Linked DNA regions of Homo sapiens. The protein of the gene in region 2 purifies or fractionates together with the protein of the main gene of each other region. This does not show direct contact. Each region holds a gene or a part of one and is shown on either strand. Other genes may lie near its edges.

Region 1 (3,809 bases), on a different chromosome or scaffold from region 2:
TCTTCAGCTTCTCCACACAGGAGTCCTCCAGGCGGCTCTCGAACTTCTCCTCGGGCCCCGCAGCTGCCGTCGTGCCCTGGCTGCTGTTGCTGACGGCGGAGACCAGGGGCAGGGCTGGGTTCCCCAGGGGACTGGGGAGCTTGGCGTCCTGGGTGTGGTTCAGGGGGCTCTTGAGCAGCGATGTGGGAGGTAGCAGAGGCGGCCGGGGGTACAAGGATGGAGGGAAGATGCCCGGGAAGCCGGGGGTGAGTGCGGGGAACGTGGGAGGCGCCGTGGAGAAGGGCAGGCTCCCCGGGTGCGGCCTGGAGGGAAAGTACTCGTTGAAGCCCAGGCTGGCGTGATTGAGGCTGGGGGAGGGTTTTGCCTTGTCCATCATGGGGCTGGGGGTCAAGGGCAGGCCCGGGGCAAAGATGCCGCCCGGCGTGTAATGGTTCTTGCCCTCGCAGAAGCGCCGGTGCTTGTTGAGGGAGGAGGTAGTGCTGAACATCTGGCCACAGTCCTTGCACTTGATCTGCGTGCGGCAGTCGGCGTGCATCCGCTTGTGCCGGCACAGGTTGGAGAACTGCGTGTAGGACTTGTGGCAGACCTCACCTAAAACATCAGCAGAAGCCAAGACAAACCCGCATGAAATGACCGGGAAACCCTGCTGAAAACGCCACATGAAATTACTGGGAAAGCCAGCCGCTGGAGGGGCGAGGCTGGGGCTGGAAGCAGTCTGTCTGGGTGCATGTGCGTGGGCATGGGTGTATATGTGTGTACTGTGCATACATGCGTGTGTGCGTACACACAAATACACAGGCAGGTGCATGTGTGTCTGTGTGCGTAAGTGTCCGTGTCTGGGCAGGCGTGTGTGTATTCTGCAAGCGTGCGTGTCTGAGTGTGCACACGTGTGCACACATGAGCATGTGGAAACATATGTGTGTGTGCATGCGCCCCACCCAAGACTGGCCTCCAGTGACCAGCACAGATCGGGGGGCCGGTTGGTACAGTTCCTGCTGTGCCGCCACCTTCTTTGCTGGAGAATGGGCTTGCCACTGCTGTTTCCACCCTCCTACCCCACGGTGTTGCTAGTTTAGGAGCCAAGATTTTCAGAAGTCCCTGGGGAAGGTGAACCTGCTCTCCAGGGCGGGGCACGGGGAAAGCGAATGCATGTGATGGTGTCTGCCACTCCATCAGTGGATTCAGGGCAAGCTGGCTCAGGGCCCGCCCTGCCTTCGTCTTCACTTTTGCAGCTGTTCTAGCAGGGGTGGGGGCAGGACGCTGACCACGCAGACTGTGCCTCCTGCTCTCTAGAAGTTCACAGTGTTCCTAGTGTCCTCCCACCTCCCCTCTCCGCACCAGATCCTGCTGCCTGCACCCCGGAGAAGGCAGCCTCTGGGTTGACACAGACAGTTCCTGAGGTTCTCAGGAGGCCCCAACTCGGGGATCCCGGACTTTGGGGCTCCTGGCAGTACTCAACTACCCTTTGGAGATGGCTGGAGGTGGACATGGATAGGAGGTCACCCCGGGCAGGAGCCCTATGCAGAGGGACTATTCCCTGCTTGAGAAAAGTGAAAATCCTACTACTGGGAACCTCCTCAGACTGGGATGGAAGCGGCAGTGCCCGGCTCTGGCTGGCGAGTGCCAGCATCTTCTCTCAACAGGAGAGGGCAGTGCCGGCCCAGCTAGACTCCAGGACCCAGCGGCCTGGGGGTTCCGGCCATTTTCCTAAAGGCCTGTGAACGGTTGTCAGCGAATCACCAGCTTGTCTTTTGCCTCTTGTTTTTCTAAGAAAAAAGGGAGGAACACACACACATCTACACATGCACACACACAGCACACACAACCACACACCACATTCATACACATGCACACACACCACACACACGCACACACACAACCACACACATTCATACACATGCACATACACAACCACACACCACATTCGTACACACACAATCACACACATGCACACACAGCACACACACATGCACACCCCCCACACCCCCCCATGCAAACACACAACCACACCCCCCACACGCACACACACCCACACCACACACATGCACATACACACACACCACACCCACAACCACACCACACACATGCACACAACCACACACATGCACACAAACACCACACACACACCCACACCACACACCCACACACAACCACACACATGCACACATACACCACACACACCCACACCACACACCCACACACAACCACACACACTCACACCCACACCACACACACACCCACACTACACACACCACACAAACCACACACATGCACATACACCACACACACGCACACACACACCACAGACACGCACACCACACACACACATCCCGGCGAGTGTCTCTCTCTGTAGGACAATTTGCTTCCTAAACACGGCGTGGTGGAAACAATGATTTCAGCAAGCTTCTTGCTCACCAGAAATCGTCGGCTGCCTGATCTCCTTCGACTCCAGCTGGGAGCTTTTCCCCTAAGATGATCGTGTTCTTTCATCACGATATCTATTTATATTAACCGCTCTACCTTCCTGCTCGTCCAGCCTGGCGGGGCGTTTTCAAGGCTGAGGGGAGAAGAACTTTGTCTCGTTTCATCAAATCTGCCCTCTCTGGAGGGCTGCTGATGGACAGGTGACCCTCCAGAGGGAGGGTCTGTAAATACCCCTCGGTCACCTACCTGGCCCTCGGGGAGGCACTCAGCCCTGCCGGCCAAACAAGCACACCCTGGCTGTGCCCCACTCACACACTCTCACACCCACACGCACCAACTCACGCGCCCACACTCTCACACACACACGCACCAACTCACGTGCCCACACTCACTCACACACACCCACACTCACACACTCACATGCATCAACTCACACGCCCACACTCGCACTCACAGACACGCGCCCACACTCACGCTGTCACGTGCGCCGACACACGCACCGGCCCACACGCCCACACTCACACACACTGACATGCCCCGGCTCACACGCCAACCCTCACATGCTCTCACACGTGCCAACACATGCACTGGCTCACACGCCCCTCACTCTCATGCGTGCCAACACAAGCACTGGCTCACACGCCCACCCTCATGCGCTCTCACACACACACGCACCAGCTCACGTGCCCACCCTCGTGCTCTCACATCCTCCAACACACGCACCAGCTCACGCGCCCACACGCGCTCACACACACGCACCGGCTCACGCGCCCACACTCATGCACTCTCACGTGTGCCAACACATGCACCGGCTCACGCGCCCACACTCACACACTCTCATGCACGCCAACACATGCACCGGCTCACGTGCTCACACTCACACACTCTCACACATGCCAACACAGGCACCAGCTCACGCACCCACACTCATGCACTCACACACACACCAGCTCACACACCCACACTCACACGCTCTCACACGCACCGACACATGCACCAGCTCATGTGTCCACACACACGCTCTCACACACACACGCACCGGTGCACGCGCCCACACTCACACACTCTCACACGTGCATACTTATTAAAGCAAAGGCTCTTTCTGCAAAGTGCCCAGTGGGAGCCTGTGCACCTCATTCCCAGATATTATACTTCCTCTCTGTCCTGTTCTCCTCTCCTCTCGCTCTACCCACCCCTTCTCTTACACCCATGCACACACACGTTTGTACACAGCCCAGGGCACAGGTGAGCGCCTTGGTGGGAAAGACACCACCAGGAATGACACCCCCTCCGTCTGTGTGGCCAGTGAGGTGGGGGCTTAGGGCTTCCATCTGCCTGTGCCATGGGTGTGTCACCCAGCAGGTGGACACGGAGTCTGGCCATGA
Region 2 (3,262 bases):
TGTTACTTGGCAGTGGTTTTTTCTCACCCTTCCTTTTTAACAATAAAATCCCATTTGGGTCTTGATGGTTGTGTTGGAAATTTGACCTTGTCTGGAATGTGGGGTGGCCATGACTAAGATTCAACCAACTCCCGCTCCCCCTAGTCCCCATCTACCCCTGGCTCGCTATATAGCACCAACCTACAAATACCTGGGGGAGAGGGGTTTTTCTCTAGATCCTGAGGCCTCTCCCCATGGTGGGGCTAGCAAGATCCGTTATGTCCCTATCCCACTGGCCTTCACACCTGCCCAGGCACCCTCCCAGGAGAGGTCAGGGACCTGAGGCGGCCCAGATGCCAGAAAGTCTCACAACCCAGATGAGGCGGTTGCCCCTCGAGGTCAGGGCTCAGAAACTGCCCAGCTAAGCCCCTCAGCCTCAAAGTGAGGAAACTCCTGCAAGGGGAATGGGGTGCTCCCTGACTCCCCCGCAAGGGGAATGGGGCGCTCCCTGTCTCCCAGGCAGGTGGGTTGCTGTGACCATGTGGATGCTTTTACCTGCCCTAGTTCTGTGTCTGGGTGGGGGGAAAGCTCAACAAAGGGGAGTGAAACCCCTAAACCCCCTGGCTTGTGGGACCCTCCCTGGGTTGTTTTTACCCAGAAACTGAGTGGTTCAATCATCCCTTTACCACTCTGAGCATCGGTTTATTCAGGACCAAGAACGTTCCTTCAAGTCAGCTGTGAAATCAGCTCTTGAAACCAGGCATCTTGTCTACCACGCCTCACCTGGACTCCACCCCAGCCCTAGGGTGGCCGGCGCCTGGCCATCCAGGGGACCAGGCTTGTTGCCACCTCCAGGCTCGCCTTGCCCTTCCCAGACCCACAGGGACCACCTAGGCCAGGCCTTTATTCCCAGACCCCGAGGCTACTTGGGGGTCCGGATAAGGGTGTGGTATACGGGCTTGACGATGAGGTGCAGGTGCAGGGCGTTCTCAACCAGGTACTCGGAGTTGCGCCGCTGCAGGTCGGCGTGCGCCAGGAAGTCGCCGGCCTCCTCGCTGCTCTGGTGGAAGCTGTAGGCGTGGCGGACCAGCAGGCGGCCCTGCTGGCGCGCCCCCACCAGCACCGTCTTCTGGAAGCTCACGCCCGCCGCGTCGCCGCCGCTGCTGGCCGGCGTCACCACCAGCCGCGGTCGGCCGTCCTCCGGGCGCGCGGCGGGCAGAGCAGTGCCCGCGGCGTCCGCGTAAACGGGCCGCAGGCTGACGGGCAGCCAGCGCGGCGAGAAGAGCACGTTCCAGGTGACCCGGCGGCCCGCGTCGTGGCCACTCGGGCCCAGCTGCGTCTGGAAGCTGGTGCTGCGGTCGTCGCGGGCCGGGTTGTTGATGACCCACGGGGCGCCCCAGGCGGGCGCGAGGTAGTTGCGGGGCAGGAAGGCGCTGCCGTTGACGTCGAAGAACTTGGCGTAGTGCAGCGGCGACGCGGCGTGGAACTGGTAGGCCTGCAGCAGGAGGTCGGCCACCGCGGGGCCGTGGCGCGCCAGGGCTGCCGAGCGCGCCTGCAGCTGGAACAGCTGTGCCGGTGGGATCATGGGGTAGCGTATGGCGCGCAGCGCCCGCTCGGCCACGGCAGGGGGCGGCCGCGCGCGACCCAGCCAGGCCTCCAGCGCGTGGAACAGCTCCAGTTCATCCTGCAGCACCAGGTCCGAGCGTTGCAGGAGCTGCCAGAGCAGCTCGGGGCTCACGGCGCCCCACTCGGTGCTGGCCGCCACGGCCGACAGGTTCCAGGCCAGGAACTGCAGGCAGCTCTCGCGCAGGGCCTCGTCCCCGGTGCCCACCGCGTAGTGGTACCAGCCCACCGCCGGGCCCGCGCCTCCCGCCAGGTGCGCGCGCATGTAGTCGGCCACGCCGCGCTGCAGGGAGGACACGCCGTACTTGGTGGCCAGTCTGTGCAGGGGGATGGCCTGGGTCAGCAGCACGGTCAGCTCCCCGCAGTACAGGTACCTGCGGGAGAGACCGAGAGGTGGGGCGGGGTCAGGGCGGTACCCACCTCCCAGGATAGATTTTTTAGAGTCCACAGGGGACCCGGCCTGGAGTTGGAGCTTCACTGTCCGGGTGCAAACACAGTGGAAGCCCCACCCTGAGGCTTCCCATGTTTTCCTTTCAAGGACCCTTCCAGGCCATTCTTACTTCACAGGCTCTTCTTTCCGTTTCCGCGGTGATGTAGAAATTGCCTGCATTGACTGTGCCTCTACTAGGCGTGCAGCCCTAGGCTGGAACAAAACAGACGTGGCTCCTGCCTTTGGGGTTTCCAGTCTGGTTGGGATCCATGGCCTGCCTTCTCCTTGCCATGAGTCTGGGCAAGTCACTTAACTTCAGTGAACCTTAGGCTAATCAATCACCTAGGAAAGGGGGAGTGGCACACACCCCTCAGGGTTACTGTGACAACCAGAGGAGAATAAAGAATCTTGCTACAGGCCAGGTGGGTGCTAGTGGCTCACACCTGGAATCTCAGCACTTTGGAAGGCCAAGATGGGAGGATTGCTTGAGGCCAGGAGTTCAAGACCAGCTTGGGCAACATAGCAAGACCCTATCTCTACAAAAAATAAAAAATGTTAAAACATTAGTCATGTGTGGTGGTGCACGCTTGTAGTCCCAGCTGCCTGGGAGTCTGAGGTGGGAAGATAGCTTCAGCCTAGGAGTTCAAGGCTGCAGTGAGCTATGATCATCATGCCACGACACTCCAGCTTTTTTTTTTTTTTTTTTTTTTTTTGAGATGGGGTCTTTCTGTATTGCTCAGGTTGGTCTCAAACTCCTGGACTTGAGCAGTCCTCCCACCTTGGCCTCTCAAAGTGCTGGGATTACAGGTGTGAGCCCCCATTTCTTTTTTGCAGCCTCACCTTTCTTTTTCCTCTCCTACTGTTGGTGATCACTTCTGCTGAGTATCTCTTCGTCTTACTTCTGCCACTGTCCCATGGCTCACCTTTCCTGCCAGTCCCCACCGGCACACGGCACCGCACTTGCCTCTATAGGAGTGTGGCAGCCACTGCCAGCCATCTTCCCCAACGTCCATTTCTCCCCTTTCCCCTGCGTGATTGCCTCTGGGAATAAAAGACCACATTTCCCAGGCTCCCTCATTCTGGCCTTGGCCATGTGACTAACTGCTGGTCAATGGGCGCAGTTTGGGATTTGCAGGAAGGCTGATTAAATGCAACTGATTCCGGGTTAACAGGAAGACCCTTTTTGCCCTTCTGTCTTATCCCCTTTCCTGTTGCCTGGAACTTGGAAGC

What was found.
Region 1: the proteins of BTBD17 (region 2) and PRDM16 purify together in Homo sapiens (affinity purification with mass spectrometry; one large-scale study listed by BioGRID and IntAct). This does not show direct contact.

What each region holds. Positions count from the first base shown.
Region 1 is NC_000001.11:3,408,166-3,411,974, reverse strand, and holds part of PRDM16 (histone-lysine N-methyltransferase PRDM16), read right to left. Parts: intron 592-3,809; coding exon 1-591. UniProt on the Homo sapiens protein: Binds DNA and functions as a transcriptional regulator. Displays histone methyltransferase activity and monomethylates 'Lys-9' of histone H3 (H3K9me1) in vitro.
Region 2 is NC_000017.11:74,355,756-74,359,017, forward strand, and holds the end of BTBD17 (BTB/POZ domain-containing protein 17 precursor), read right to left. Parts: intron 1,977-3,262; coding exon 902-1,976; 3' UTR 661-901; downstream 1-660.